Homo sapiens: one gene and its partner. The protein of the gene in region 1 purifies or fractionates together with the protein of each later gene. This does not show direct contact. Each region holds a gene or a part of one and is shown on either strand. Other genes may lie near its edges. The genes, in order: USP44 and TBL1XR1.

Region 1 (16,384 bases):
TATTTTATTACTATTGGCAGCTAAGATGTACTCAGGGCCATATTATTAAGTGTCAGGAGTTGTTCTAAGTTAATTCCCTCAACAACCCTATTGGTATTATTACCACTGTTACTTTACAGATAAGAAAACTGAGGTATGTAGCACGTAATTTATGGTCACATAGTAAATCCTGTCAAGTGTTAAACTCGGGGATTTAGATTCCAGTGTGTGCTCGCTCACCGTTTTACTGTAATCCCTCTCTTCTACCATGATGTCTCAGATAGATGACATCTAATCAAGATTTCACCCTTTTCACAATTTTGTATCAAATAGAATGATGTGTTTAATTATAGATGCCACTTCCCTTTGAAGGTCAAGTACTTTGTTATTATCTAAATAGATTTTTTAGCAATAGCTTCAATGAAACAGGTACTTTTTTTGTATTCAAGGGAATTTATTTGCAGAGTAGAGAAAGGAGTAAAGAGGTTAGTGTACAATTTAGCACATACTTAACACTATCTGAGCTGTTTTTATTTAAAACATGTTATTTTTACAATTTTGAAAGTATAGATTAATAAAGAAAGTACAGTAATTTTCAGTCCCATTACCCAGAGGTAACCTCAGAATAAATGTATTCTCACCAGGCTTTTTCCTACTGATCCTTTTCTGAAAGTGTTAACTCATTCTACGTCTTTAAAATTTTGGAATGAAATGATCTTTTTTGCTGGCATTTCCTTCTTCACCTCTGCAAGGATGTTGAACTAATAATTATTTTCGGCCTGGCGTGGTGGCTCATGACTGTAATCCCAGCACTTTGGGAGGCCAAGGCAGGCAGGTCACGAGGTCGGGAGCTCAAGACTAGCCTGGCCAACATGGTGAAACCCCGTCTCTACTAAAAATACAAAAATTAGCTGGACATGGTGACGTGTGCCTGTAATCCCAGCTACTCGGGAGGCTAAGGCAGGAGAATCGCTTGAACCCAGGAGGTGGAGGTTGCAGTGAGCTAAGATAGCACCCCTGCACTCCAGCCTGGGCGACAGAGTGAGACTCTGTCTCAAAAAATAAAATAATATAAAAATTATTTTCTATGGTTTGCCAGAAACATGTTTAACTAAATTTTCTCTGTATTCATTTTATCATTTTGAATAAAAGGTAATACAGAGCCCTAGATCCTTCCCTTAACCTCCAAATTGAGTAAATTCTCTCAACTAATGTTTGTTAAGCACTAATTCTACCTCTGCCCCCTTCTTCAAAACTGCTATACTCCTGCAGCTTTAATTTCCTTATAATTTCTGGACTGCTAGTCTCTCTTAATCACTCGTCCCTTCTCCAGAGCTCTTTGTAATTCAGATCCCTCTGTAACCCACAGATCTGATCATATCATTCTCCTCTACAGATTTCTTCAGTGGCTCTGTGTTGCTCATAGGCCCTAGAAGCAAGCTTGGGGATGATTAGGGCAAGTAATTCTCTGAGTCCCAGGTACCAGCGAGTGGCCTTAGAAGGGGAGTTGCTGGTGTGTGCAGACTTCAGGTGGCCACATGCCCTTGGCCTTGCTGACTACACATTAATAGAGGAGGGTCACAGCAAGGATCCCCTAAAGTGGTTGTTTAGGTCTAGATGCAGACCATGCTACTGTGTGTTGAGAGTAGACTGTTGGTGGCAGTAAGGACAGAAGTGGAGAGACCATCTGGGAGCCTTACTGCAGTAATCCCGGTAAGACTTGATTGTAGCTTGGATCAGGCTGGTGGCAGTAGAGGCACTAAGTAAGTCAGATTCTCAGTATATTTTGGAGGTAGAGTCAATCATTTTTCCTGAAGGATTGATTTAGAGAGAGAGAGTCAAGGATGACTCTAAGGTTTCTTGCCTCAGTACAGAAAGATATGGGATAGTGGAATATATAAATCACTGATGTCTCAATTCTGCCATTAGCAACTATTGTCAAATCCTAGGTGTTCTAATAAAGTACCATATTTGACCAGATTTTAAACCTCTGGAAATTTTTAGAGAGAGGAGTAAATTTAAAATGTGCACTTAAAACGTGTGAAATGGGGGCTGGGCACGGTGGCTCACGCTTGTAATCCTAGCACTTTGGGAGGGTTAGGCGGGTAGATCACTTGAGGCCAGGAGTTCAAGACCAGCCTGGGCAACATGGTGAAACTATGTCTGTACCAAAAATACAAAAATTAGCCAGGCGTAATGGCACATGCCTGTGGTCTCAGCTACTGGGGATGCTGAGGTGCGAGAATCGCTGGAACCTGGGAGGTGGAGGTTGCAGTGAGCTGAGACTGCACCACTGCAGTCCAGCTTAGGTGACAGAACAAGACCCTATCTCAAAAAAAAAAAAAAAAAAAAAGGAAAAAAAAGGAAAGAAAGAAACATGTGAACATGTGAGATTTGGGACTGGTCAGTACCTGATACCTAAAAATTAAGGAACGAATATGAGATTTTACAAAAAGAGGTGGGAAGGAACCAAAAATCAACTGCTTTTGCAGTTTTCTTAAGGCCTGGAGGTGGCACTTGCAGGTACCGTTGAAATTCACAGTTTCAACTGCCCTAAAAATTTAATGCCTTGGTCATGATACATAGGGTGTTTTTAGTGTTCCGTAACTAGGTCTCCACCCAAACCCTGAAATTTGTCTTTGATTTGTATTAAATCAATGAAAAAAGTGTTTGTGATCACGGCTTTTTAAATAAGATTTCTGTTCATTACATGTAAATAACTTACAGCAGAAGTGTTCCTGACTTTAACTGATAAAGGAACAAGTTCTGTGTCAAAAATCACATAAGCTTTTTTAAAAAAATAAGCTTATAATTTCAGATAGGTTTAGGCCTGCTAGAATGTAATAAAAGCTTATTGCCACCCACTTCATATTCTTCCTTTTTTTCTCTTTATTTCCTTGTATGTTTCTGAGAATATTCAAATACAAAAGCACATTCTCCTCTTCTGTCTTTCTCTTTCCCTAAAGCCAACTGTCAAGTCTGTTCGGCCTCAGAGTATGTTATAGAGCCATGAATTAAAGGTAATTATTGATTTACCAAATGGAAAAAAATAAGTTTAATGGTAATATGATTTATTTAAATAGGGTAATAAGATTCGTTCACTATAGATACAATTAAAACTACCATTTACCATGTGTCAGATAAATATTATCTCTCAGTTCTTCAACAACTCAATTGAAGTTGGTATGATTTTCCCTCTTTTACAGATGGTTTAGAGAAGTTAAAACATTTGCTCAAAATCATACATTTAACAGTGTGTGGCAAAGGTACAATTCAAACCTATGTTTTTCTGCCTTAAAACTCACCTTTTCATCTTTGATTATGTTTTATTAACTCCACATAAGGCTCATAATGTTTATAAATATTAGTGAGATATATTTGGGTCTTGCCAACCCCTGTCATTAAGAAAAGGGGCCAGGCACAGTGGTTCACGCCTGTAATCCCAGCACTTTGGGAGGCCAAGGCGGGTAGATGACCCGAGCTCAGGAGTTCAAGACCAGCCTGGGCAACATGACGAAACCTTGTCTCTAGTAAAAATACGAAAAACAGATTAGCTGAATGTGGTGGTGCACTCCTATAATCCCAGCTACCCGGGAGGCTGAGGCACAGCAATCACGTGAGCCCAGGAGGCAGGGGTTGCAGTGAGCTGAGATCGCACCACTGCACTCCAGCCTGGGCCACAGAGCAAGACTCTGTCTCAAAAAAAAAAAAAAAAGGGAATGCAGTTTTGGAAACTGCCCTCAGACTACTGGGTAAAAAAGGATAGATCTTAAGCTATTTCAGTGGAAAGTGATTACTACCCATTTTTCACCACTAGATGGTGGCAGAAAGTTAAAAACAAAAGCTAAAGGCGCCTCATTAGAGAAAGTGAAGTGTCTGTGCTTTCAGAGCAAGGTGGATGTGAGGTTAGGGAAGTTTAGAGAAAGGGAAATGGGAGAACTGCCAATGGTATTATGATAAGCAGCCTAGAAATTGGGAGCAGAGGACACAAATCTTTATTATTCTTGGGAAAAAATATGAAAAATATTAGCATCTTGTTATTAACACTTGACATTGTTCTGTTTAGTTTTCAGATGCTTCAAGTGTTGTGAACAGAGACTTGTTTGGATTATGCATTTCTCAGCTAGACTAAATAAATGCTAGCAATGGATACGTGCAAACATGTTGGGCAGCTGCAGCTTGCTCAAGACCATTCCAGCCTCAACCCTCAGAAATGGCACTGTGTGGACTGCAACACGACCGAGTCCATTTGGGCTTGCCTTAGCTGCTCCCATGTTGCCTGTGGAAGATATATTGAAGAGCATGCACTCAAGCACTTTCAAGAAAGCAGTCATCCTGTTGCATTGGAGGTGAATGAGATGTACGTTTTTTGTTACCTTTGTGATGATTATGTTCTGAATGATAACACAACTGGAGACCTGAAGTTACTACGACGTACATTAAGTGCCATCAAAAGTCAAAATTATCACTGCACAACTCGTAGTGGGAGGTTTTTACGGTCCATGGGTACAGGTGATGATTCTTATTTCTTACATGACGGTGCCCAATCTCTGCTTCAAAGTGAAGATCAACTGTATACTGCTCTTTGGCACAGGAGAAGGATACTAATGGGTAAAATCTTTCGAACATGGTTTGAACAATCACCCATTGGAAGAAAAAAGCAAGAAGAACCATTTCAGGAAAAAATAGTAGTAAAAAGAGAAGTAAAGAAAAGACGGCAGGAATTGGAGTATCAAGTTAAAGCAGAATTGGAAAGTATGCCTCCAAGAAAGAGTTTACGTTTACAAGGGCTCGCTCAGTCGACCATAATAGAAATAGTTTCTGTTCAGGTGCCAGCACAAACGCCAGCATCACCAGCAAAAGATAAAGTACTCTCTACCTCAGAAAATGAAATATCTCAAAAAGTCAGTGACTCCTCAGTTAAACGAAGGCCAATAGTAACTCCTGGTGTAACAGGATTGAGAAATTTGGGAAATACTTGCTATATGAATTCTGTTCTTCAGGTGTTGAGTCATTTACTTATTTTTCGACAATGTTTTTTAAAGCTTGATCTGAACCAATGGCTGGCTATGACTGCTAGCGAGAAGACAAGATCTTGTAAGCATCCACCAGTCACAGATACAGTAGTATATCAAATGAATGAATGTCAGGAAAAAGATACAGGTTTTGTTTGCTCCAGACAATCAAGTCTGTCATCAGGACTAAGTGGTGGAGCATCAAAAGGTAGAAAGATGGAACTTATTCAGCCAAAGGAGCCAACTTCACAGTACATTTCTCTTTGTCATGAATTGCATACTTTGTTCCAAGTCATGTGGTCTGGAAAGTGGGCGTTGGTCTCACCATTTGCTATGCTACACTCAGTGTGGAGACTCATTCCTGCCTTTCGTGGTTACGCCCAACAAGACGCTCAGGAATTTCTTTGTGAACTTTTAGATAAAATACAACGTGAATTAGAGACAACTGGTACCAGTTTACCAGCTCTTATCCCCACTTCTCAAAGGAAACTCATCAAACAAGTTCTGAATGTTGTAAATAACATTTTTCATGGACAACTTCTTAGTCAGGTATGGATTTTTAAGAATCTTATTTTCATCATTGGGAGTTCATAAAGTGTAGCCTATAAAAAGGCATATTCTATGTACATCTAGTGTGTTGAGCTAGTACCATTTTCAGGTCAAAATAGATTGTTTTTATAAATATGTATAGAGAAATCAGCTCACTCAATTCCTTCTTTCATGAATCATTGGAAGTAGTTTTACATCTATGGTAGCAAAAGCTTTTGGAGGGAGGGAGAAATCAGGAGACGGAGCTCTCTAGGTTACCAATATTACATTCATTATCTGAGGGATTGAGAAGAGGAGGGTTTAATCCCAGAGGGAACGGATTTAAAGATGCTGCTATTCTCGGGATGAAAATGGTGCACATGGCCGGGCGTGGGGGCTCACACCTATAATCCCAGCACTTTGGGAAGCCAAGGCGGGTAGATCAGCTGAAGTCAGGAGTTCAAGACCAGCCTGACCAACATGGTGTAACCCCATCTCTACTAAAAATACAAAAGCTAGCTGAGTGTGGTGGCAGACGCCTGTAATCTCAGCTACTTGGGAGGCTGAGTCAGGAGAATCGCTTGAACCCAGGAGGTGGAGGTTGCAATGAGCTGAAATCACACCACTGCACTCCAGCCTGGGTGACAGAGCGAGACTCCGTCTCAAAAAAAAAAAAAAAAAACCCAAAGAAAGAAAGAAAATGGTGCACACTTGAGCAATTTCAGGGACCAAGGAGTAGCCCTGGAGGACTTCCTATAAAATCAAAGGGTCATGGTCTGAGAGCTTTAACAAGTAGGTAGGGAAATTTTAAGGTAAACAAATGTGATTTCATCTAGAATAATCTTATATGATTTTCCTTTATTTTAATTACTACTCAAAAGTTTCCTTTGTCATGATAAGGTGGACTATAAAACCAGAATCTTCGAAGTAAAGGTTCTCTATACTGAGTGGACTTATTGGTGAACTGTTAATAGACATAAGGTTCTCTACTTTCCCATAACACACAAATTTAAACAAAATTTTTTTTATAACTGAGGCTATTAGGCTTTTAGGTCATTTCCTTCCCCCTGCACACCTGCCTCTGTTCTTCAGTTCAACTTGCATTGTAATAAGGCCATCTTTTGTTTTTATAGCATACTTTCCTAAAATGTTGTTTAAGTATTTCAGATGTAATTCTTCTTAAGGAATATCTATGAAGTTTATTTTTCAGTGTTTCAGAAATGCAAAGATTTTGTGTCAATTAGCAAATAAGAATTGTACTGCAATTTTACTTCTCCATCTTTCTCTGTCATTTCCTTTTTATGCAAAAGTTTTAAAATACACTGTTACAGAGTGCAACATATAGTTGCAGGAAACCTATATAATATAGGAAATCTATATAGAAGGAAAGAAAAATCATTCTCTAATCCTATAACCCCACAATCCATTGGTAAAACTATTTATATTTTGGTATATTTTCTAGTCTTTTTTTCTCCTGCACATGTATAAATATTTTTTCCCATAATTGGTCATTTTGCATTTATCTGCTTTTCCCATTTAATATTGTAATTATTTTCCAATAATTAAAAATATTTCATCATTCTTTTCAAAACATTTCAATGTTCATAATTTTTTTGTGTGTTTTTTTTGGTATATGTCTGCTATTTAACATCATATGTTTTTTTTTGTTTTTGTTTTTGTTTTTTTGAGACAGAGTCTCACTCTGTTGCCCAGGCTGGAGTGCAGTGGCGCGATCTCGGCTCACTGCAAGCTCCACCTGCTGGGTTCACGCCATTCTCCTGCCTCAGCCTCCCAAGTAGCTGGGACTACAGGCGCCTGCCACCACACCCAGCCAATTTTTTGTGTTTTTAGTAGAGACGGGGTTTCACCATGTTAGCCAGGATGGTCTCGATCTCCTGACCTTGTGATCCACGCGCCTCGGCCTCCCAAAGTGCTGGGATTACAGGCATGAGCCACTGCTCCTGGCCACATCGTATGTTTATACCGTAACTTAACCATTCCCCTATTGTTGACTGTTTTTAATTTTTTTCATTATTATAATGTCATCAATTAATTTTTCTGACTTCCTTATGACAGAGTCTTAGAAGTTGACTTTGTCAGAGTAAGACTTCTGATACTTGGTGACAAAGTTCTTTCCAGAAAGTGTTTTTCTTTTATATCTATCTATCTATCTATCTATCTATCTATCTATCTATCTATCTATATTTCCAGTAGTATGAAAGTTGCTATGTGCTTATTTTTTCCTTTATAAATGTATTTTCAAATTAATAAAAATTATTGTACCAGCTTTTTGCTTCTCTTTCTTTAATACACTCTTAGGGAACTGGTTCTCAGGAGATTTAAGACAGTTGGTTGCTGTAATGGCTTTTCCTTTCTATTTTTTATTTTTTTTATAGAGACAAGGTCTCACTGTGTTGCCCAGGCTGGTCTCAAACTCCTGGGCTCAAGCAGCCCTCCCGCTTTGGCCTCTCAAAGTGCTGGGATTACAGGCATGAGCCACTACACCCAGACTGGGATGGCTTTTTGTGTGTTTTTGCTTTTGTTTTTGTTTTTTTTGTTTAATTCAAGAAAATTCTCAAAATGTCTGGCCCTGGCACTACTGAGTCCTTAGACTATAAACGCCAGGAGAGTTCTTTGTGTCAATTTGTGAAATCTAAAATCTGTATTACAACTGGCTTCTTTATTTTGTTGCCTGTGCCAGGACTATAGCTTGTATGAAAGAGGTTCTTTATAATATTTCATATCATATGTGAATTGTTAGTTCATGGAGTCTGTCTTCAATTATGTGCAGTGTTTGTTGGCATTAAATCCTGCTGAATGTTTCACTGAAGTTACTATTCATTTCCTTTCCGGTTGCTACATTGCCTATGTAAGTTGTTAAAACAGCTCCATGTTTTTCGTGTTTTCTGTGTTTGGATGGGGATTTTAATGTTATGTTTGCTTTAAGTAGGAGTATGACATCATTATTTATGTCATATATCTTGTCTTTTGAAATTATCAGTTGTCAGGGCCTTAAAATCTGCATAATGAAAAGATAGTATTTTACTTGTAATATGGTTAAGATTGGATTGGGTTAAGAGGTTATAGGATTTGGGGTTAGGAAGAAAAATCAGCAAAAGATGAAGGAGAGGCCGGGCATGGTGGCTCACGCCTGTAATCCCAGCACTTTGGCAGGCCGAGGTGGGCGGATCGCCTAAAGTCAGGAGTTCAAGACCATCCTGGCCAACATGGCGAAAGCCCGTTTACTAAAAATAGAAAAATTAGCTAGGCGTGGTAGCTGGCACCTGTAGTCCAGCTACTCAGGAGGCTGAGGCAGGAGAATCGCTGGAACCTAAGAGCCAGAGGTTGCAGTGAGCCGAGATTGCGCCATTGCACCCTAGCACTGGGGACAGAGCGAGACTCCATCTCAAAAAAAAAAAAGATGAAAGAAACAGTGAGGAACCTCAAGCCTAATGACATAAATACATTAAACTTAATGCATGTGAATGTACATCATATGTATATATCTATGTATACATAGATATATGTATATATGTATATATGTATACATAGTGTGTTTCTATTCAGTGTGTCCACAGTTTGGATTTTTACCTAAATTTAATGCCCTTAGAGCTTTTTGAATGCCCAGTAGTTAAAGCAACCAATTCATGATGGCTCTGATAACAATCTTTTGGAAGGAAAAATCATAATGAAAGATTTCCTGACAAGAATATAAAGCAGATTATTCAGAATCCTAATGGTGCATTTTCATGAGAAAAGTTTATTTAGTGGCAGTGACCTCTAGTGAAAAGAGTTAATGTTTTGATGGAAAGATTATAATCTTAGGAACTCATATTCTCATTTGCAGGTTACATGTCTTGCATGTGACAACAAATCAAATACCATAGAACCTTTCTGGGACTTGTCATTGGAGTTTCCAGAAAGGTATCAATGCAGTGGAAAAGATATTGCTTCCCAGCCATGTCTGGTTACTGAAATGTTGGCCAAATTTACAGAAACTGAAGCTTTAGAAGGAAAAATCTACGTATGTGACCAGTGTAACTGTGAGTAAAGACGTTGTGTTCTTGGTGCTTTCCTAGGAATGATAAAGAGAAACGCAGATGAGAGGAAGCTGAAAGAAATCTTTAGCAGTTATGAAAATGAACTTTTTTTCAGTTCATCAAAAGAAACAGACGTTTTCACTTTATAATTGGCATTTATGAACTATGCATTTGTTTGGCCATATTGATGGAATTTAAATTGTTTCTGATCTTGTAGACAATTTTGGAGAGAGAAGATTCATAACAAGTTTAAATATGATATGTGGAGCAAAATAAAGTAGCAAAGAGGAATAATGAAAGGAAAGCATGTCATGTAGCATGAATGAAACACTTGCTTTATGAGCTTTTTTGGCTACATATCAAAGTGATATGTAGATAAATGCGTGTGTGTATGTCTATATACATAAAATAGGAAATAATATATGCAGGACTGCTGCTGTGGAGATTGGCTTCATCAAAACAAAGATTTATTCAAAACCATGCACTGTCTCTTCTGTGTTAGTTATTCCCAGTGTCTATAGATAGAGGTGAGATACTGTCAAGGTGCTTACATTCCTAATGGAGGAAGCAGATAGACAGGATCCACTATGATAAGTGCTCTAATGGAGGAGAGCACAGGAACCTGACACTGGGGGTGAAACAGCCACTTCAGTTAAAAGAGAAGCGTCTTCGGCCAGGTGCAGTGGCTCACGCCTGTAATCCTACCACGTTGGGAGGCCGAGGTGGGCAGATCACCTGAGGTCAGGAGTTCAAGCCCAGCCTGGCCAATGTGGTGAAACCTCGTCTCTCCTAAAAATACAAAAATTAGCTGGGCATGGTGGCACGCACTTGTAATCCCAGCTACTCGGGAGGCTGAGGCAGGAGAATTGCTTGAACCCAGGAGGCAGAGGTTGCAGTGAGCTGAGATTGTGCCACTGCACTCCAGCCTGAGCAAGAGTGAAACTCTGTCTCAAAAAAAAAAAAAAAAAAAAAAGCATCTTCCTCCAAGGAAACAGTGTATAAAACCACATCAGATCTGCTGTGTTGGCCAGGTGCGGTGGCTTACGCCTGTAATCCTAACACTTTGGGAGGCCGAGGCAGGTGGATCGCTTGAGGTCAGGAGTTCAAGACCAGCCTGGCCAACATGGCGAAACCCCATCTCTACTAAAAATATAGAAATTAGCCGGGTGTGGTGGAGTGCATCTGTAATCCCAGCTACTTGGGAGGCTGAGGCAGGAGAATCTCTTGAACCCAGGAGGCGGAGGTTGCAGTGAGCCAAGATCGTGCCACTGCACTCCTTCCTGGATGACAGAACAAGCCTCTGTCTCAAAAAAACACACAAAAACATCTACTGTGTCTTTATTTCCTCTGTTGATGTGTATATGTAGTGGGAGTTAAGCTATGAGGATGCAAAGGCATAATAATGATCGAGTGTGGGCTGGGCACAGTGGCTCACACCTGTAATCCCAGCACTTTGGGAGGCTGAGGTGGGCAGATCACCTGAGGTCAGGAGTTCGAGACCAGCCTGGCCAACATGGTGAAACCCCATCTCTACTAAAAATACAAAAATTAGCTGGGCATGGTGGCGTGCGCCTGTAATCCCAGCTATTCAAGAGGCCGAGGCAGGAGAATCACCTGAACCTGGGAGGGGGAGGTTGCAGTGAGCCGAGATCGCGCCATTCCACTCCAGCCTAGGCAACAGTGCGAGACTCTGTCTCAAAAAAAAAAAAAAAGAATGATCCAGTGGACTTTACAGATTCAGGGGAGAGGGTGGGAGGGGTGAGGGATAAAATGCTACACATTGGGTACAGTGTACCCTGCTCAGGTGTTGGGTGCACCAAAATCTCAGAAATCACCACTACAGAACTTATTTATGTAACCAAACACCACCTGTTCCCCAAAAACCTATTGAAATTAAAAAAAAGAATAAGATATACTTACATAGCATCTTAGTATTTATACTATATAAACATATAGTGTAGTATAGTGTAGTGTATAGTAAACTATGCTATAGTTTATACTATGCTATATATATTTTTTCAGGTATTCTCCCTAATTTCCCTATCTCGCAAATAGATTCTAAGGCTTTAAATAACTAAACTTTTAAGGTAAACAAAAAATAGGATATTCCCACATTGAAGAAATGTTATATCAATTGATGGTTTCCTGGAATGACTTTAACACTTTTGTATAAGTGCTGTCTAATGTGAACGCATAAAGTAGCCTTAAATTTATAAGGTTTTTTTTTGTTGTTTTTTTGAGACAGAATCTCGCTCTGTCACCCATGCTGGAGTGCAGTGGCACAGTCTCGGCTCACTGCAAGCTCCGCCTCCTGGGTTCAGGCCATTCTCCTGCCTCAGCCTCCCGAGTAGCTGGGACTACAGGCGCCCGCCACCACGCCTGGCTAATTTTTTGTATTTTTAGTAGAGACAGGGTTTCACCGTGTTAGCCAGGATGGTCTCGATCTCCTGACCTCGTGATCCACCCGCCTCTGCCTTCCAAAGCGCTGGGATTACAGGCGCGAGCCACCGCGCCCGGCCTATAAGGTTTTTTTAAAAAATAAATCTTTGTCAAAGTTGTTATGATGAAGTATTATTTTTTCTTGGACATAAATGTGGTGAGTGCCAAATGCTTTCATCACCAAATTTGGGGGTGATGTTATGAATGCAGAATATGGTTTTATAGCAAATTTCTATGTGTTTACTAAAGCTACCAAATACAGGCCTAAAAGAGCTGCTTTAACACAGCAGTGCAAATGTTTACAATTATATGCCGAGGAGTTGATATCCCCTATCTGGCTACCCTTGGACCGATGTGCTAGGAGACAATCCAGAGGTAGGTCCAGGACATTCAGCAGCAGCCAGATACCTGGATCGCAGGGTTAGACACCTGGAAGAAAGGCCAGCGAAGGTGGCTTAGAGCTCAGCTTCATGGTGGACTGAGCCTGCTTCCCACATGAGAAGCAGCTGCTGCCATGGCTGGAGTCGGAGCTGGTGTACAAGTTGAAGGATAGCTCCTGGACATCAGGAGCAAACTGTAGCTGATGGCCCAGCTCCAGGACAGTCCATAGGTGGACCTCTAGGGAAGCAGAAGGGACAACAAGAAGAATCCTGAGTTCCAGCTGTCTAAGATCTAGTGCTAAAAGAGCAAAAGCAAAACGCTTGAGTGAGGGAGGCCTCAGAACTGGTAAAGTCCTGCTTTCCTAGGCCGTTGGCCAGGGCTGAGGTGGTCCCCAGGAAAAGTGGAGGGATGTTCTGGGCAATCAGGACCTTCCTCTGGGTTTCTGACTAGCCTTGGTAAATGAACTGACCACTCACTTTTTTTTTCTTTTTTCTTTTTTAAATCTTTTGACCACAAACTTTTAAATTAAGAGTTTGGGAAATGTATATTAAAATGTTTAGGGAATGTTGTAACTTTTCCTATTAATTGGTATAGCCAGTTCCATTTAAAAATATTATTATGGCTGGGTGCAGTGGCTCATGCCTGTAATCCCAGCACTTTAGGAGGACGAGGCAGGTGGATCACAATGTCAGGAGTTCGAGACCAGCCTGGCCAACATAGTGAAACCCCGTCTCTACTAAAAATACAAAAATTAGCCGGGCATGGTGGCACGCACCTATAGTCCCAGTTACATGGGAGGCTGAGGCAGGAGAATTGCTTGAACCCAGGAGGCGGAGGTTGTGGTGAGCCGAGATTGTGCCACTGCACTCCAGCCTGGGCAACAGAGTGAGATTCTGTCTCTAAATAAATAAATAAAAATATTATAGCAGTATACTTTGTTCTATCACATTATATGCAAGATTATTATTAAATCATGTACTTGATTACAGATCTGTCTAACTTGACTAGCTCCTAAGTTTTTTGGTTAATTGTGGATCATGAGTTTCTTGAGGGCAAAGCCCATGTCTATCTCTAGCACAGTACAATGCCTGGAACACAGTACATACTTTTCATTTCTGACTTAATTAAAAAGAAGGTTCACTCAGCTTTTCCCTGAATCTTTAAATGAAATTTGATTTTTATTCTTTCTTTGATGTTACAGCAAAGCGTAGAAGGTTTTCCTCCAAACCAGTTGTACTCACAGAAGCCCAGAAACAACTTATGATATGCCACCTACCTCAGGTTCTCAGACTGCACCTCAAACGATTCAGGTCTGTAGTAGGACCAGTTGCAAAGTTATCATTCCTTGTGCTTATAATGCTTCAAAACTTAAAGAATGCATGTTATAATTTTTTCCCCTTACTTTAATCACCTTTCTGACAAATGAATTAACTTTTAATATCATATACTTGGCTAGTAAATGACTTACATTTGCTTATTTGTTTATTTATTTAGAGATCGAGTCTCACTCTGTCACCTAGGCTGGCGATAGGGTTTTACCATGTTGCCCAGGCTGGTCTCAAACTCCTGGGCTCAAGCGATCCACCCACATGGGCCTCCCAAAGTGCTGGCCGGGCAAGGTGGCTCACACCTGTAATCCCAGCACTTTGGGAGGCCGAGGCAGGTGGATCACCTGAGGTTAGGAGTTCGAGACTAGCCTGGCCAACATGGTGAAACCCCATCTCTACTAAAAATACAAAACTGTAGCCGGGCATGGTGGCGCATGCCTGTAATCCTAGCTGCTCAGGAGGCTGAGTCGGGAGAATCGCTTGAACCTGGGAAGTAGAGGTTGCAGTGAGCCGATATCGCACTGTTGCACTCCAGCCTGGGCGACAGAGTGAGACTCCATCTCAAACATACATATGTACGTACATACATACATAAACATAAAAATAAAAATACAAAAATTAGCCAGGCGTGGTGACACACGCCTGTAATTCCAGCTACTTGGGAGGCTGAGACAGGAGAATCACTTGAACCCTGGAGGCAGAGGTTGCAGTGAGCCAACATCATACCATTGCACTCTAGCCTGAGTGACAGAGCGAGACTCTGTCTCAAGAAAAAAAAAAGAAAAATGTTGAGATGACAGGTGTGAGCCACCGTGCCCAGCAGAATATTTCTAATACCTTTGATGTCCCCTGTGTGTGCCTGTCAATCTTGTTCCTTTCCCCTCTTCAGAAGCAAACCATTATGAATTTTGAGTATAGTGTTACCTTATTGTTCTTTATCAGTTTATTGTATCTCTTTTTTTTTTTTTTTTTGGTAGAGACAGGGTTTTGCCATGTTGCCCAGGCTAATCTGGAAACTCCTGAGCTCAGGCAATCTGCTCACCTCAGCTTTCCAATGTGCTAGGATTACAGGCGTGAGCCACCGCACCTGGCTGAGAGATATTGGAAAAACCGAACTCAGTTTCTCCTACCATACTCTTACAACAGAGAATACGAATGTGACCTCTGCTTACCAAAATGTGTAGGAGATTTCTCCCCACCAAGCAAGTCATCAGTTCTGCAGTGGATGCGAGCTGGGTGTCCTCTAATTCAATTTAGTTCTGACACTGTCTACCTGGAGGTAGCATCAGATCCCACAGATGGAGAGCTCAGTCCCACAAGACTGACCCCCACTTCAGACCCCAGTCATAACTCCAGGTTTGTGGAAATTGTGACCAACCTGTTGGCTGTAAATGTAATGGGATTCCCACAAGCTGCTCCCCTGGTTTGATTAATTTTCCAGAGGGCCCCCACAGAACTCAGGGAAACCTTTGTGTTTACCCATTTATTACAAAGGAGAGTTTCAAGGATCCATATGAACAGCCAGATGGAAGTCATGTGTAGGGCATGGCTTGTGGGAAGGGGCATATAGGTTCCACACCCTCCCTGGGGGTGCTGCCCTCTGGGGACTTCAGCATGGTTAGCTATCCGGAAGCTCCAGAAGCCCATCCTTTTGGGTTTTTATGGAGGCTTCAGTACATAGGCATGACTGATTACATCATTCAGCCCCATTCCCTTTGGGGGTTGGGGGCAGTGTTTGGAAGGAAGCTGAAAGTCCCAATCCTCTAGTCATTCCCGGGTCTTTCCTGTGACTTGCCCACATCCTGAAGCTATCTAGGGGTTGCCAGCCACTAGTTGTCTCATTAGCATACAAAAGACACACTTTTTTTTTTTTTTTTTTTTTTGAGCCAGAATTTCGCTCTTGTCGCCTAGGCTGGAGTGCAATGGCGCAATCTCAGCTCACTGCAACCTCTGCGTCCCGGGTTCAAGCGATTCTCCTGCCTCAGCCTCCCCAGTAACTGGTATTACAGGTATGCACCATCAAGCCTGGCTAATTTTTGTATTTTTAGTAGAGACGGGGTTTCACCATGTTAGCCAGGCTGGTCTTGAACTCCTGACCTCAGGTGATCCACCCACCTCGGCCTCCCAAGGTGCTGGGATTACAGGCGTGAGCCACCACGGCCAACCAAGACACTCTCATCACTCCAGAGATTCCAAAAATTTTAGGAGATGTATCTGAGGAAACTGGAAGGAAAACCAAATATATATTTCACAACCCCACAGAGAGATTGGAATATGACTTATGGTCCAGCAGATAACATAATTTGAATGGTTCATCTTTAGTTCCGTGCCATTTTACACTGGACTAAGCATTTTCACTTTTTTTTTTCCATCATAAAACTATGTTCTTGTCTCTCCCTTCTCTACCTGCTATTGGTCTGAACCTCATGTTTTAGTACTTTACTACTATATTTTTATCTATGTCTGCCTTGTCTCTCTACCATACTACCCCAAACTGGATTATAATCTCTTGAACTACCATGTTACATTATTTTCCCCTCGTAGCACCAACTCATTATGCATATTGATAAACACATTGCTTGCCATGCTGAGATCCAGTAATGGGAAGTATGACCAGCAGACTGAGAAAATAACAGGGTAAGGGCATTCTTTCAGTTCTGTCACCAATGGGCGG
Region 2 (16,384 bases), on another chromosome or scaffold:
GGCTTGTTTCATTCAGCTCTTAGTGTACTTTGAGCTCGACTATTGTTACCTGATGCAAAACATGAATATGCTGGGGAAAATCACGTATGAACCAGAGCAATCTCCTTGTTGTACTGACATAATTCTCGTATTTACCAATTACATATGAGCCTATTCCGGATACAGACACACGCTGGAGCACAACCAAGTATTCTTTTAACTTACGGTATCTGTTTTATTCTAACTAAATTCTTAAGAGATAAGTCATGGCATTTTGCAAATATGGGAACTGAAGCTCAAGAGAGGCAGGTAAAATGTATCCAAAGTTTCTCCCAGGAGTGAAGCTAAAGGTTGCAGAAGTTATTCCTAAACCCAACCTCAAAGTTGCAACTACTCTTGGGAGGGCTTCAAACCAAGACCTTTAAATTCTACCATGTGCATTCACCATATTTATCAAAGACCATTAGCATGCTGTTATGGTTCCTGTCATTACCAGTTCTCACTTGTAACAAGTCACTTCTATGTTGATTTGTCAGAACAAAGGAGCCAACCAACCGATATATCTACTAGCAAAATACACATGAATCATCTGGAAGAAAACGCAAGAAAGGCAAATGAGGCTAGATAAAATGAGGCAGCTAGATTCACCAGCATATCTGACACAAAAAAGGGAACAAACCAAGTAGAGAAGCAACAAATTAAAAAACATACCCACTACAGGCTGGGTGCAGTCGCTCATGCCTGTAATCCCAGCACTTTGGGAGGCCAAGGCAGGCAATCATGAGGTCAGGAGATCGAGACCATCCTGGCCAACATGGTGAAACCCTATCTCTACTAAAATACAAAAAATTAGCCAGGCATGGTGGCACGTGCCTGTAATCCCAGCTACTTGGGAGGCTGGGGCAGGAGAATTGCCTGAATCCGGGAGGCGTGGGTTGCAGTGAGCTGAGATCGTGTCACTGCACTCCAGCCTGGTGACGGAGCAAGACTCCGTCTCAAAAAAAAAAAAAAAAAAAAAAGCATACCCACTACAAGAAACAGAGCCCAGAGATACAAAAGATTAAAGTACCTACTTTAATCTACAGACAAGTAAACAAAGGGTAAAAAAGGGAAAAGCCCATAAATACGTTCATTCCCCCCCCCCCCATTTAATAGTACCTTGTCTGTTTTAACAACATTCAGAGGAAAACAAAAATGTTACTCATTTAAATATTACTCTCCTTGGAGTTTTTTTAATCTGCTGACGACTTTTTTAAACTTTTATTTTTAAATATTTTTTAGAATATCACTAAAATACTGTTGCAATCATTTTAAGTTCAAAGTTTTAAAACCGAAAATCCTATATTCTCTGACAGTAAATTCTGGTTTCTAGAAAGTAGCTCAAAAACAAATGCGTCATCCTCTACTTTGGAAGGTTCCAAATGATAACAGAATCAAATCTACCAAGACCCCTCATCCCAACCAAATGTCTCTAAATACCAAGATCTCAGATTACCCTGGAATTTTTTTTTTTTTGAGACGGAGATTTGCTCTTGTCACCCAGGCTGGAGTGCAATGACATGATCTCAGCTCCCTGCAACCTCTGCCTCCTGGGTTCAAGGGATTCTCCTGCCTCAGCCTCTGGAGTAGCTACGATTACAGGCCACCACGCCCTGCTAGTTTTTTGTATTTTTAGTAAAGACGGGGGTTTCACCATGTTGGTCAGGCTGGTCTTGAACTCCTGACCTCAGGTGATCCACCCACCTCGGCCTACCACCAAGTACTAGGATTAGAGGCGTGACCCATGGCACTGGACCCCAGACCCGCTATCCTGGATATTTTCATCAGTGAGCTAGAAGTAGAGGATGTTGCCTCAGCTCACTCTGACAACTCGGTGTTGCCATCACCTACTCCCATTTCTTCCAACTCTGAACCTCCTCTATTCTCCAACTCTGTCTTGTCGCAACTCATTGTCATTAAATGAAAATCTGAACTGGCGCAGGTGTAATCTCAGCACTCTGGGAGGCCACGGTGGGTGGATCGCTTGAGGCCAGGTGTTCCAGACCAGCCTGGCCAACACGGTGAAACCCCATCTCTACTAGTAATACAAAAATTAGCCAGGTGTGGTGGCACACGCCTATAATCCCAGCTACTCAGGAGGCTGAGGCATGAGAATCACCTGAACCCGGGAGGTGGAGGTTACAGTAAGCCAAGAGCATGCCACCACACTCCAGCCTGAGTGACAGAGCCAGACTCCGTCTTAAAAAAAAAAAAAAAGAACGCCTCTGCCAGCCTACACTCAACAGTAGAAAACACGGGAAAATACAAGATGTCCCCATGCTAGATTGTGATAGATTCCATGCTAGCAGATCAGGAGAGGAGGAGGTCGGAAGAACCAATCTGGGCCACAGAATCACTTGTGCAACTGGTTTAAAGAGACAAAGGACACAGAGTATACACATCCTTTGACCTCTGAGGGAAAACCACAGTCAAAGAGAAGGGCAGCAGTAGATGTATGGACTGGGTATGCAAGACCATGAATCAGAAAAAAAGCCAGGCAAGAATCATATGCCAGTATCAGGTAAACGTAAGGGTTCAAGTTAGGAAAAAAAAAAAAAAACACACACATGATGAAGGGTCTAAAGAGACTGCAGAATACATAAATATCAGGAAGAAGTGGGCAAGCCCAAATAACACCCCAATTCAGGTTTAACTGCTACGGTCAGGCCAAGGTCTTTGAATCTTTTACCCACATTTTGAGTATATTCCTTGTTTCCCCTAGCAAGTTCTACACTGTTTTCAAGCCAAAAGGATTCTGCAGATGACAAAAACCAAAGAGCAGGGTGCCAGGTTATCAAGCAGACCCTCAAAATTCTTACAGCACAGCCAGTCCCAGTGGCTCATGCCTATTGTAATCCCAGCAGTTTGGGAAGCTACAGCAGGTGGATCACTTGAGCCCAGGAGTTCAAGACCAGCCTGGGCAACATAGTGAGACCCCCATCTCTACCAAAAAACACAAAAATTAGCCGGGAATGGTGGCGTAGTAGTCCCAGATACTCAAGAGGCTGAGGTGATAGGACCACCTGAGCCCGGGGAGTTCAGGGCTGCAGTGAGCCATGACCGTGCCACTGCCCTCCAGCCTGGGTGACAGAGTAAGATCCTGTCTCAGAAAAAGAAGAAAACTCTGACAGCAGGAACACAGTAAGTTCTAAGGACAATTAATTTGTGAAACTGGATGTATCTCCTTTCCAGTTTTGTATATGTGAATCACTCACAAAAGCAACAAGAGTCTACTGTACTAGCAAACGTATACCTCAGTCAGAGCCTCATAGGATTCAACTCAACAATGGAAAGGCTAAAGAGTGCCAGGCACTGTACCAGATGCTGAGGGTCAAGATGGGTGAGAGAGACCTGTTTTCAAGGAAGGATCTCTGCCTAGTGAGATGAGGCAACAAATAACTCTCAATCAAGGAGAGGCCTGTGCTAGAAACACATGACTAGTGGTCATCATTGGCAAGGATGTTAATTTAAGACTGTCACGGAAAGAAGCCTAATGCTTAATCTTCAATCAAATAGTGTAACTTCATGCAGGCAACATGTTATGGCATGTAAATTTTTTTAAAACAATATAATTATCCAAACTTCTTCTCTAATGGGATATAAGAAACTTTATATAATGGTCATTCTTCTAAGTACTGTCCTTTATGAGAAGCATTCAGGGTTCCTAAGCTACAGCTGTTCAGATTTTCCCTCCAAAACTCTTAAATTTACATTTAAGAGCAATCAAAATTCCTTATCATTTGTATCTTACTTCTTATGTATGCCTTACAAAATTGAGGCACCATAACTTCAGAATCCTCATACAGCTTCAGAATACAACCTAAAGACATTAGCACCAATAAATGTAACTCATCCATGCTCTGTCATTCAGAACGTCGACGTTTCTGAGTACTGACTCTAAATCCATAAAAGTAGAAAAGTACAATTCTATACTCCTTTGAACGAGTATTTTCTAAATTCACTGAATAAAATTAAGTAATAAAATTCATTTAGGTTTATAAAAGCATGTTTTTAAATGAAGAGTACAGAAAATGTGTGTGCATAAGTTCCTGATAACCCTTCAGTTATTTCTGCATGTATACATACCCTGTGTTGTGCCATATGGATTTTTAGTGAGAATCCATGTTAACGTTTGTGTAAAATTTAACATATATATTTGAAGTGACTGATAAAGCAGTTGTCAGTTGTCAACCAGAGCAGTGTTGCCTGGAGAAAAGTAGGGATTCCACTCCGGAAAGCAAAAATTTTTTTGAGACGGAGTTTCACTCCTTCACCCAGGCTGGAGTGCAGTGGTGCGATTTTGGCTCACTGCAACCTCCGCCTCCCGGGTTCAAGTGATTCTCCTGCCTCAGCCTCCGCAGCTGGGATTACAGGCACCCGCCACTACACCTTGCGAATTTTTTCCTCAAACTCCTGACCTCAGGTGATCCACCCACCTCAGCCTCCCAAAGTGCTGGGATTACAGGCATGAGCCACTGCGCCCGACCAAAAAACTTTATTTTTAAGAAAGGTACAATCTTCTTTTTCTTGAAACATCTAATCGGCCGGGCATGGTGGCTCACGCCTGTAATCCCAGCACTTCGGGAGGCCAAGGCAAGGTGGATCACCTGAAGTCAGGAGCTCGAGACCAGCTCTTCACCACAGTAACATACTGAGAGTTCACTGCCAAAAATGAGACAAAGACTCTCCTACCTAGTCTCCTGTTACTGCTGAGAAGAGGGCCATGACAGTGCCCTCAAAGGAAGGCTAGTGTCAAAGTCACAGTGCAGCACAATTCTGTGCACCAAAACAGGTGCTCCCTTTCTCTGAGGTTGCTCCAGTTGAAGTTGAAAATGAGCACAACTAGAAGGCAAGCCCCTTTACTGGTAAACTAAATAGCCAACAAAAAGCTGCAAGTGACACAATTGCAAATGACACCAACTGCAACCAAAAATAGCATTAAAATCTAATATATCTGTCACCTTGACATCAATAACACATACATCTAAGTTTGTAAGTCATGACAGGATCGGTGCAGTATCAGAAGCCATAGTTCCACAAATCCCATTGTGCCAAATACTATAATTATTAAAGTCAACCACTATGAGAACCCCAATATTCACCTAATGTCCAAACCCTTGGCAAAGCAATACCTTTGAAATAAGACAAAATGTAGTACTTCTGGACAACCAAAACCTCCTAAAGTTTGCACTAAATTATTTTCTAAGTATCAAGCTTGGATAGGATTCAAAATTCACCAGTTGGCCAGGTGCGGTGGCTCACGCCTGTAATCTCAGCACTTTGGGAGGCAGAGGCCAGTGGATCACCTTAGGTCAGGAGTTCAAGACCAGCTTGTCCAACATGGTGAAATCCCGTCTCTACTAAAAATACAAAATTAGCCAGGTATGGTGGCACATGCCTGTAGTCCCAGCTACTCAGGAGGCTGAGACAGGAGAATCACTTGAACCCTGGAGGCAGAGGCTGCAGTAAGCCGATCGCACCACTGCACTCCAGCCTGGATGAGACAGAGCAAGACTGTGGCTCAAAAAAAAAAAAAAATCATCACTGATTCACCACTGGTCTAAGGACCCAGTCATGAAACAGAAACAACACTTGTTAATCATACCACTACTCTAATTCTGCCAACAAGTCTGAAAAATGAAAATAAGTGTTTACAGAAATATACAGTTACAGCTCTTTAAGAACTGACTGAAAAGCACAGGAGAAATTAACATCATTTTCCCCCTTCTTTTGACCATCCTATCCAAATCCAAAGAAATAAAGTTTTTAAAAGCTTAACCACATGCCTCGATTTTTCAATTTTTTTTTCAAAATGGTAATAAGAACATCAACAGTTCAAAAGGTTACACATGAAAATAAGTCTCTCTGACATCTGACTACATAATCTACCTACCCCAACAGCATTGTTATCAGTCTCTTCCACAGCTTTCTAGAGTCACTCTAAGCACACACAACAAGCATATATAAATACACACATACTCATACACACTGTATTGCATGTGTCCTCCTTTCCAGTCTTCTACCCCTTAAGTTAAAATAGCAGCCAACCGGCCAGGGGCAGTGGCTCACGCCAGTAATTCCAGCACTTTGGGAGGCCGAGGAGGATGGATCACTTGAGGTCAGGATTTCAAGACCAGCCTGGCCAACATGGCGAAACCCCATTTCTACTTAAGTACAAAAAAATTAGCCAAGCATGGTGGCATGAGCCTGTCCCAGCTACTCAGGAGCCTGAGGCAGGGGCATCACTTGGACCCAGGAAGCGGAGGTCACTGTGAGCCAAGATCAACGCCATTGCACTCCAGTCTGGGTCACAGAATGAGACTGTTTCCAAAAAAAAAAAACCAGTATTTTCTGACCCTTTGTCTTTTCATTTAAAAGTATCTTTGAGAAGGTCCCTTATTAACAAAAAAATCAAACACCAAATCTAAATAAATATATAAAAGAAGCATTGGCTGGGCACAGCAGCTCACACCAATAATCCCAACACTTTGGGAGGCAGGAGGACTGCTTGAGTCCAGGAATTCGAGACCAGCCTGAGCAACATAGTGAGATCCTCTCTCTACAAAAAATTAAAAATAAAAAAATTGGCTGGGCATGGTGCTGCTCGTCTGTAGTCCTACCTACTCAGGAGGCTGAGGTAGGAGGACTGCTTAAGCCCAGGAGTTGGAGGGTAAAGTGAGCCATGTTCACACCACTGCACTCCAGCCCAGGTGACAGAGCAAGACCCTGCCTCAAATAAATAAATAAATAAATATAAGTAAATAAAGGAACACTTCACATCTCTCACCAGGTGTCAAAACTAGTGACCTCTGCCAGCAGGACACAAGGAAGTCCAAGGTCAAAGATGTATTCCCATGATACACCTGGGGTTTTTTTGCACAAGAACACAATACAATAACAGTCTGCACTCCTAACCCCAGTCTGTAATTTTACAAATGTATATCCGTTACTAAAGAGGACAGAGAACAGTAATTTAAAGAAAACCCATCATTTTACTAGGGGAAAAATCTTAAGCATGTATATTACATTGTTATATGAATGAGTGCCAAAGAGCACTGCTACAGCTACAAATCGTATCCTAAAATCCTTATTTTTTATAAGTTCTGCCCCATAAAAAGGTAATTGCAGAAAAAGAAAAGATAAATTCATTATCTATTCTCATTACCTTATTTCAGAAACCCAAAGTAGATGAGTCAATTGCCTTATACTGTGAGTTAATGACATATGATAGCCACTAAACAGAAATGTAGCAACATTAGTATACACTCTTCCCAATTAGCCTGTTGAAATTAAAGGAAGAGAATAAAACATCTCTCCCTAACCCATAAACTGTGTTCTATTCACAGTTGAAGGTAACCACTAAAATATGTTATTACTATACCCCATCTGGCAAGGTGTTTGCTTATGCTCATGTCACATACTTTCCAGACTATTACTCTATGAAAGGCTGTAGATTTTTAGTACTTAAATACTCTAAAAAAAATTTCCATATAGATCCCCGTCAAAACTCATAAAATTGAAATCATGGCCAGTCGTGGTGTCTCACACCTGTAATCCCAGCACTTTGGGAGCCTGAGGCTGGCAGATCACTTAAAAGTCAGGAGTTCGGCCAGGCGTGGTGGCTCACGCCTGTAATTCCAGCACTTTGGGAGGCCGAGGCGGGCGGATCACAAGGTCAGGAGATCGAGACCATCCCGGCTAACAGGATGAAACCCCGTCTCTCCTAAAAACACAAAAAAATTAGCCGGGCGTGGTGGCGGGCCCCTGCAGTCCCAGCTACTCAGGAGGCTGAGGCAGGAGAATGGCATGAACCCGGGAGGCGGAGTGTGCCATGAGCCGAGATCGTGCCACTGTACTCCAGCCTGGGCAACAGAGCAAGACTCTGTCTCAAAAAAAAAAAAAAGTCAGGAGTTCGAGACCAACCTGGCCAACATGGCAAAACCCTATCTCTACTAAAAATACAAAAATTAGCCATGTGTGGTGGCGGGCGCCTGCAATCCCAGCTGCTCGGGAGACTGAGGCAGGGAGAATCGCTTGAACCCGGGAGGCAGAGGTTGCAGTGAACCAAGATTGTGCTATTGCACTCCAGTCTGGACAACAGAGACTCTATCTCAAAAAAAAAAAAAAAAAAGAATCCTAGGATCTTAATAAAGGAATTGAAGTATCGAGTATACTCATTCAAGTATTTGCACAAATAAGAGAACTTCAGGTAACATTTCATCTGATCATCTTAATAGACATTTATAGAAGCTAAGTGATTTACTCATGTAACCATGGCTTTACAAAGAATTGGTTTAAAAATACTTGTTTGCTTAATATTAGACCCATGTTAAAATGCTACCCCATTCAAGCAGATGCAAACTAAGAACAAAAAACAAAAGCATCCACTCAAAAACTGAGTCACTGAATGTCTCTTTACAATGTCCCGCTCTCCACTGTGCTGAAAAAGACACAATGAGAAGAAAAGAGAAACACAAAAGGTTATCAGGAAAAAAAGCACTTATTGATTCCACATCCGATCTCAGACAAAATACCGAAGATATCAAATAGACTGACACCTAGTTTATTAAAAAGTTAAAAAAAAATCCACCATTTTAAGGTAATTAAAATTTTTAAACATTTAAAAAGAAAAAAAAAAAAGCTTGAGAGTCCAGAGTACAATTTCCTTTTTTTTTTTTTTTTTTTTTTTTGAGATGGAGTCTCGCTCTATTGCCCAGGCAGGAATACAGTGGCACGATCTCAGCTCATGGCAACCTCCACCTCCCAGGTTCAGGCTAACAGGTAGCTGGGATTACAGGCACATGCCACCACACCCGGCTAATTTCTGTATTTTTAGTAGAGACGGGGTTTTACCATGTTGGTCAGGCTGGTCTCGAACTCCTGACCTCGTGATCCACCCACCTCGGCCTCCCAAAGTGCTGGGATTACAGGCATCAGCCACCGTGCCCGGCCCAGAGAATACAATTTCATATAAAAAAGAATTACTGTCCAGGCACAGTGGCTCACACCTGTAATCCCACCAGCACTTTGGGAGGCCAAGGTGGGCAGATCACCTGAGGTCAGAGGTTCAAACCAGCCTGGCCAACATGGCGAAACTCCATCTCTACTAAAAATACAAAATTAGGTAGGTGTGGTGGCACATGCCTGTAATCCCAGCTACTCAGAAGGCTGAGGCAGGAGAACTGCTTGAACCTGGGAGGTGGAGGGTGCAGTGAGCCAAAATTGCGCCATTGCACTCCAGCCTGGGCAACAAGAGCAAACCTCCGTCAAAAAAAAGAAATTACTCTATTAAGATACCGTAATGACCATCTCTGACCCTTGCAGCCCAGAGTTTTGTTTTTTTAAATTCTACCTCCTGAAACCTTCAATAAAGGGGAAAATAGGTGGCAAACTTCACAGTTTAAATGTTCAACAGGTATTCCTCCTCCCTCATCCCTCAAACCTATTCATTTCACATAAATCTCCTGAATCTGGGTACTCTATGTTTACCAAAATGTATTAACCTTTCAGCATGATCCTTACAGTCCACACTAATTCTGAGTTACAAATCTAAGCTCTCAGAAAGCAGAGCTTTCAATCTAACTCATTTTGTTTGATTCAAAATCATGCTGAAAAGCTTACATTCTATACATAAATATTAAAAATTTTGGGCGGGTGCGGTGGCTCACGCCTGTAATCCCAGCACTTGGGGAGGCCGAGGCGGGTGGATCACGAGGTCAGGGGTTCAAGACCAGCCTGGCCAACATAACGAAACCCTATCTCTACTAAAAATACAAAAAAATTAGCCGGGCATGGTGGCACGTTCCTGTAGTCCCAGCTACTCAGGAGGCTGAGGCAGTAGAATCGCTTGAACCCAGGAGGTGGAGATTGCAGTGAGCCAAGATCATGCCACTGCACTCCAGCTTAGGCAACAGAATGAGTCTTTGTCTCAAAATAAAAATAAGAAATAACAATTTCAGGCCAGGTGTGGTGGCTCACGCCTATAATCCCAGCACTCTGGGAAGCCGAGGTGGGCAGATAACAAGGCCCAGAGGTTCAAGACCAGCCTGGCCAACAAGGTGATATCCCATCTCTACTAAAAATACAAAAATTAGCTGGGCGTGGTGGTACACGCCTGTTAGTCCCAGCAATTTGGGAGGCCAAGGTGGGTGGATCACCTGAAGTCAAGAGTTCAAGACCAGCCTAGCCAACATGGTGAAACCCCATCTCTACTAAAATTACAAAAAAATTAGCCAGGCGTGGTGGCCAGCACCTGTAATCCCAGCTACTTGGGAGGCTAAGGCAGGAGAATCGCTTGAACCCAGGGGGCGGAGGTTGCAGTGAGCGGAGATCACATCCAGCCAGTCTGGGAGACAGAGCAAGACTCCATCTCAAAAAAAAAAAAAAAAGAAGGATGTAACACCAAATTAGTTGCCTTTATAGTCAATTACCCTGGTTGGCTGGAACTAATACAGCACAGTCTTACCATAAAAATTTACTGAAGGGAGATGGTTAAGAGACATTCTTCTGGTAGATAAAACTCACTTACATTGTATAATACATATATCCTATACTGAATGTTAATAAATTAATAGTAATGGCTCAAATGAAACTCCAGTGCAGTCAGAATGCTGTAAAACAGTGAGATCTAAAAACACTATCTTAACTTAGGTACACTACTAAGGAAATAATGAAGAAAAAACCTAACAGATTAAGAAAATAAAGTTCTAGCTGGGCGTGTAAGCGGACACCTGTAATCCCAGCTACTGGGGAGGCTGAAGCAGGAAAATCGCTTGAACCCAGGAGACGGAGGTTTCAGTGAGCCAAGCATGTGCCATTGCACTCCAGCCCGGGCAACAAGAGTGAAACTCCATCTCAAAAAAAAAAAAAAAAAAAAAAAAAAAAAGAGTCCAAAATCTTAAGCATCATTATACCTAACTACCTGACACATATATAACCAGATAAAGTCAACTTACTGTGACACAATTCCTAACTAGACTAGGTTTTCCCCCAGTACTGTGGCTACTATTCCAGAATTAAAAGGGCAAAACCATCCATTTTCTTTTTTTGTGTATGTGACGGAGTTGATGCTCTTGTTGACCAGGCTGGAGTGCAGTGGCGCAATCTCAGTTCACTGCAGCCTCCGCCTCCCGGGTTGAAGCTATTCTCCTGCCTCAGCCTCCTGAGTAGCTAGGATTATAGGCGTGTGCCACCACTCCCAGCTAATTTTTTGTATTTTTAGTAGAGCTAAACATTTTATCATGTTAGCCAGGCTGGTCTCAAACTCCTGACCTCAGGTGATCCCCCTGCCTGGGCCTCCCAAAGTGCAGAGATTACAGGCGTGGGCCACCGTACCCAGTCAAAACCATCCATTTTCATCTAAGAAACTAACAAATTTTTCTTCCTTTGCAACTCTGGCAGCACTAAAATTTAAATGAACAGTTAAATGTGACTATAGCACACCTAAATCTTTAAGGTCTAACTCAAAAAGAAGATGCTGCCACATTACAGTGGAACAGGGCTGTCACTGCTCCCATTTTAACACAGGCCCTCACAATCCATTTTAACATGAAAATGGTATTAAGAACTCTGCCAAATGCTGGAAGGAAAAAGGTCCATCCGTTCAAGAAACATCGTAGTTGGGGCAACAAAACAATAAACAGTTATGGGATTTGTGATCTTCATTAAGTGCAATGGAATCTCAGAGAAGAAATATCCTGAGTCAGGATGGCCAGAAAAGGATTCATGGAAGAAGGGGGACTGAAACTAGGCTATAAGAAGGACAAAGGGAACAACAGCATGCACAAAAGCAAAGTAGTGAGTATGGCAAAAACTACCGTATTTGAGAGGCCGGCAAGAATCCCAACTAAGAGTGAGAAATAAAGCTGAATAGGTAGAATGGAACCTTCTTAAAAGCCAGACTGAAGCATACAAATTCAATCCAGTTGGCAAAGAGAATCCATTATGGGTTCTCCAGCAGGGGAACTGACAAGATGAAACCAGTACTTTAAATAAATTACACTGTCAGTAGTTACAGAAGATAAAATGAATAAGAAAGGTTGCTCAGGGCAACCAAATAAAAACTTAATAATCCAGACCTACAACCATTCATTCATTGAGAAGACAGACTGCTAGGTAACAACACTGGCCTAGAATTCACACAAACTGGGCCTAAATTCCTGCTCTGTCCCCTACTACCTGAGCCTCAATTTTCTCACTGTTAAATTCAGGCATCAGCACTCAGACTGTCACAGTACTTGTCAAAGCACCTGTATAGTCCTGATACATAGAACTTTTGACTATTAGCAAAGTGAACACTAGTGCTAAATTAAGTATGGTTAAAAATGGGAAGTGAACATAAGATAAGGCTCATAGAGGAACTGAACTTCTAAGGACAACTATCTAGACAGCATCTGATAATACGGAAAAGAATACACAGATAAAAAGTGGTCAGGAAAAATAAAATAAAACCACCTACCCAAAGTAATCACTACAGCCTAAAAGGCAGACCCTAGGTTCTGCTGGACCCAAACCTTGAAAGAGTTCCCTTTGTATTTAAAGAGTTTGCCTGGCACGGTGGCTCATGCCTGTAATCCCAGCACTTTGGGAGGCCGAGACGGGCGGTCAGGAGTTCGAGACCAGCCTGACCAACATGGTGAAACCCCATCTCTACTAAAGATACAAGAAATTAGCCAGGCAAGTGACAGGCGCCTGTAATCCCAGCTACTTGGGAGGCTGAGGTAGGGGAATCGCTTGAACCCGGGAGGCAGAGGTTGCAGTGAGCCGAGATCGCACCATTGCACTCCAGCATGGGTGACAGAGCAAGACTCTGTCTCAAAAAAAAAAAAAAAAGAGTTGAAGCTGGGCGCGGTGGCTCACGCCTGTAATCCCAGCACTTTGGGAGGCCAAAGCGGGCAGATCACAAGGTCAAGAGATGGAGACCACATGGTGAAACCCCGTCTCTACTAAAAATACAAAAATTAGCTGGGCGTGGTGGCGCATGCCTATAATCCCAGCTAGGAGGCTGAGGCAGGAGAATCGCTTGAACCCAGGAGGCGCGAGGTTGCAGTAAGAGGAGATCGCGCCATTGCACTCCAACCTGCACTCCAACCTGGGCAACAAACAAAGTGAGACTTTATCTCAAAAAAAAAAAAAAAAGAAAGAAAGTAAGTTGAAAAATGTTTCAAATGGTGCAAGTAGGCTTAAGAAGTCCAACCCAGATGACAGAATAGCAACAAAGGCATGCAAAAAAGATCCACCACCGTACCTACACCAATCATGTAAATTATTCATAGTATATGTAAGCCTTAAACCACAACTTTTTAAGAGTAAAAAAAACCAAGCTAAGTTTACTTCAAATGGGTTACTTAGGAAATGGAGCTATCAAATCCTTCCTATGACATTATGCCCCTACTAAAATAAATAACAAGCAAATAAAATGTAATACAAAGAAACAAACTTCAAAAATCAAACCTATCAGGAGCAACTTACACTTACAGGATGCTTAGAATGTCAACCATTGTTCTAAGTACCTCTCACACACTAACTGGATCTTCTTAACTCTATGAAAGTTGACTGTCCCCTTACACTGATGAAGAAACAAACACATTAGGGCCAGGCGCAATGTGGCTCATGCCTATAATCCCAGCCCTTTGGGAGGCCGAGGCAGGCACGTTACCTGAGGTCAGGAGTTCGAGACCAGCCTGGCCAACATGCTGAAACCCCATCTCTACTAAAAACACAAAAATTAGCCGGGAGTGGTGGCAAGCACCTGTAATCCCAGCTACTTGGGAGGCTGAGGCAGGAGAATCACTTGAACCCAGGAGGCGGAGGTTGCAGTGAGCCGAGATCGCGCCACTGCACTCCAGCCTGGGCAACAGAGCGAAACTCCGTCTCAAAAAAATAAAATAAAATAAAATTTTAAAAAATAAATAAAACGTATGAGGAGCTACTACCCCAACATCACAGCTAGTAAAGGATAGAGCCTGAGTTTGAACTCACTTTAACCACTATGCTACAACACAAAGACTTCAATGATTTTTCTTACACAAATTTTTTGTTTGTTTGTTTTTGAGAGGGTGTCTCCCTCTATCGCCCAGGCTGGAGTGCAATGGCGCGATCTTGGCTCACTGCAACCTCCACCTCCTGGGTTCAAGCGATTCTCCCACCTCAGCCTCCCGAGTAGCTGGGACTACAGGTACCCGCCACCACGCCCAGCTAATTTGTGTATTTTTAGTAGAGACGGGGATTCACCATGCTGGCCAAGATGGTCTCAATCTCTTGACCTCGTGATCCGCCCGCCTTGGCCTTCCAAAGTGCTTGGATTACAGGCGTGAGCCACTGCACCCAGCAAGACTGCATCTTATTAAATGGTGCTAGGGAATTCAGCACAATGATATGAGTTCTATCAATTTCATTTACCCATGTAATCACTCGACCCATTTAGTACAGACGCTCAACTATAGATCATAAACTTGATTAGAAACACAAGTTTTTGGAAGGATGATCTACACGGATCAAGACTAACAAAACAGCTGGGAAAATTCCGCAGATTCAGTCATCTAAGACAGACCCAGGTTTGAATCCTAGTGTTCATTTAATAATTTTGTGGCCTTGAACAAGGGAATTAACTTCTTTGCATCTCTGTTTCATCATCCACAAAAAAAGCCCAACACTATCTACCTCATAGGATTAGCCTAGGGTATAAACAGCATAGAAAGCACCTCACACCTCCTAGAGCATAGCCCGGAGCACCTAGTCCCTCTCCTCTGGCTCTATGGTTACAGGGCAATTAATTGCACTCTTACCGAATCCAATCCCAGAGGGGTAAACAGCCAAATCTCTCCAGCATCAGCGCTCTCAGAGTCTTTTCTTTTTAACTTCAAGTTTCTATTGGTGGCAGAGCAGGAGATACCACCTTCGTGGTACCTAAACTGAACGATACTCAACAATTCTTTACTACACAGCTCTAGGGTCCTAGCCCTCCTCTACTACCAGAATGTCTGAGCATAAAGTATAAATGTCTCGTGTTAGCTGCTTTCCTTTTTTGCATTTCAGTGACTTATACTGTAAATGTTATTTGTGAAATGAGTCCAATTCACATGCACTAGAAAAATACAAGTTCTAGTGAATACCAATGTTTCTGCCATGCCTCTCCCCTGACTTCCTACCATTCACATTCTTCTTTATTCTTTTTATATAAATGACACCAAAAATTGAACAAACCCAACAAATTATTTCAACCAACTTCATCAAAATGTGTCAAGTCAGGAATTCTTTATAATAGTACTGCTACAAGTTGTACTAGGGAGATTCCTTTGTCAGCTACTCGTCTGACAAGGTTGTATATATACTGCACTGATAGATTTAATCAACAAGTTGATGTTCAAAAGGTCTATTAATACATTTCCTTTTATCAGTACCCCTTATATTTATATTACCTTCTGTTAGCTTGAAAGGCTCCTAGAACACAGGAAGCAGTTACCTCTAATTCTTTCGGGAGACTGGTGTCATGGTAATCATGCAAAACCTTTAATTAGGTGTCGAGAATACAAATATCAAAAAGATTCTTAGACATACGTATTAAAATGCTTAACACTTCTTTGAAGCAACCAATGCAAAAATATCATCTCTGCAAGGGGTCACTCCATTTACCACCAGTGTCTCCCACATTAATACCCAAAGCTGGTATACGTTAAAAGAAAAATGTCATAAACTGACGGTGAGCTTTGCAACAATTTTTATGCCATTAACATGTCACTTTATTAAGTTCCTTAGCAATAAGAAAAACTTTTCCCAGGCACGTAGTTTTCGTCCCCCATACAGTTTAGTATTTTGTCCTGTAGGTCGGATTCCAACAACTCAAACGTCAAAAAAAATAGTAGTTATTTATGAATTTAATGATTGCGATTACATACATCTCAGTGCAGGATAGGGTTGAAAAAAAAAATCATATTCCAAACAAGAAAACCTGGATTTAAGAGCAAGAAGCCTAATCACACATCACACGCCTAACTGCTCTCAGGCATACTTTCTTCCTGCAGCCCCTCCCCCACAGGTAAATGCTAACTATTTCTAGAACTCTCAACTATTTGGGAAGCTTGCCATCAACTCCCATGATACCACCCAACCCACACCATGTTTTCGGGGAGACAAAGGTGCCCTACTTCCCCAGACTATAAACTATTAAAATGGTGAGAACATACAATCCCAGGAAGTCGGCATTACTAAAATACATCAATGTAGCATGGGTCTTATTTTAACAAAAATGAAAATGAATCACACTGGAAAACCCAAACAGTCACTCATTGTATCTTCAACGTGTAATCGAAATTATTTATTCCAAGTTATTTCAGGTAAGTAGATGAACACACCACGAGGGCCTTAT

What was found.
Region 2: the proteins of USP44 (region 1) and TBL1XR1 purify together in Homo sapiens (affinity purification with mass spectrometry; 2 studies listed by BioGRID, with this or other methods). This does not show direct contact.

Annotation. Positions count from the first base shown.
Region 1 is NC_000012.12:95,521,988-95,538,371, reverse strand, and holds part of USP44 (ubiquitin carboxyl-terminal hydrolase 44), read left to right. Parts: intron 1-2,945; exon of another isoform or gene 2,946-2,999; intron 3,000-3,185; exon of another isoform or gene 3,186-3,245; intron 3,246-4,045; 5' UTR 4,046-4,115; coding exon 4,116-5,543; intron 5,544-8,313; coding exon of another isoform or gene 8,314-8,403; exon of another isoform or gene 8,404-8,641; intron 8,642-9,369; coding exon 9,370-9,565; intron 9,566-13,583; coding exon 13,584-13,692; intron 13,693-14,773; exon of another isoform or gene 14,774-15,066; intron 15,067-16,254; coding exon of another isoform or gene 16,255-16,347; intron 16,348-16,384.
Region 2 is NC_000003.12:177,179,260-177,195,643, forward strand, and holds part of TBL1XR1 (F-box-like/WD repeat-containing protein TBL1XR1), read right to left. Parts: intron 1-16,384. UniProt on the Homo sapiens protein: F-box-like protein involved in the recruitment of the ubiquitin/19S proteasome complex to nuclear receptor-regulated transcription units. Plays an essential role in transcription activation mediated by nuclear receptors.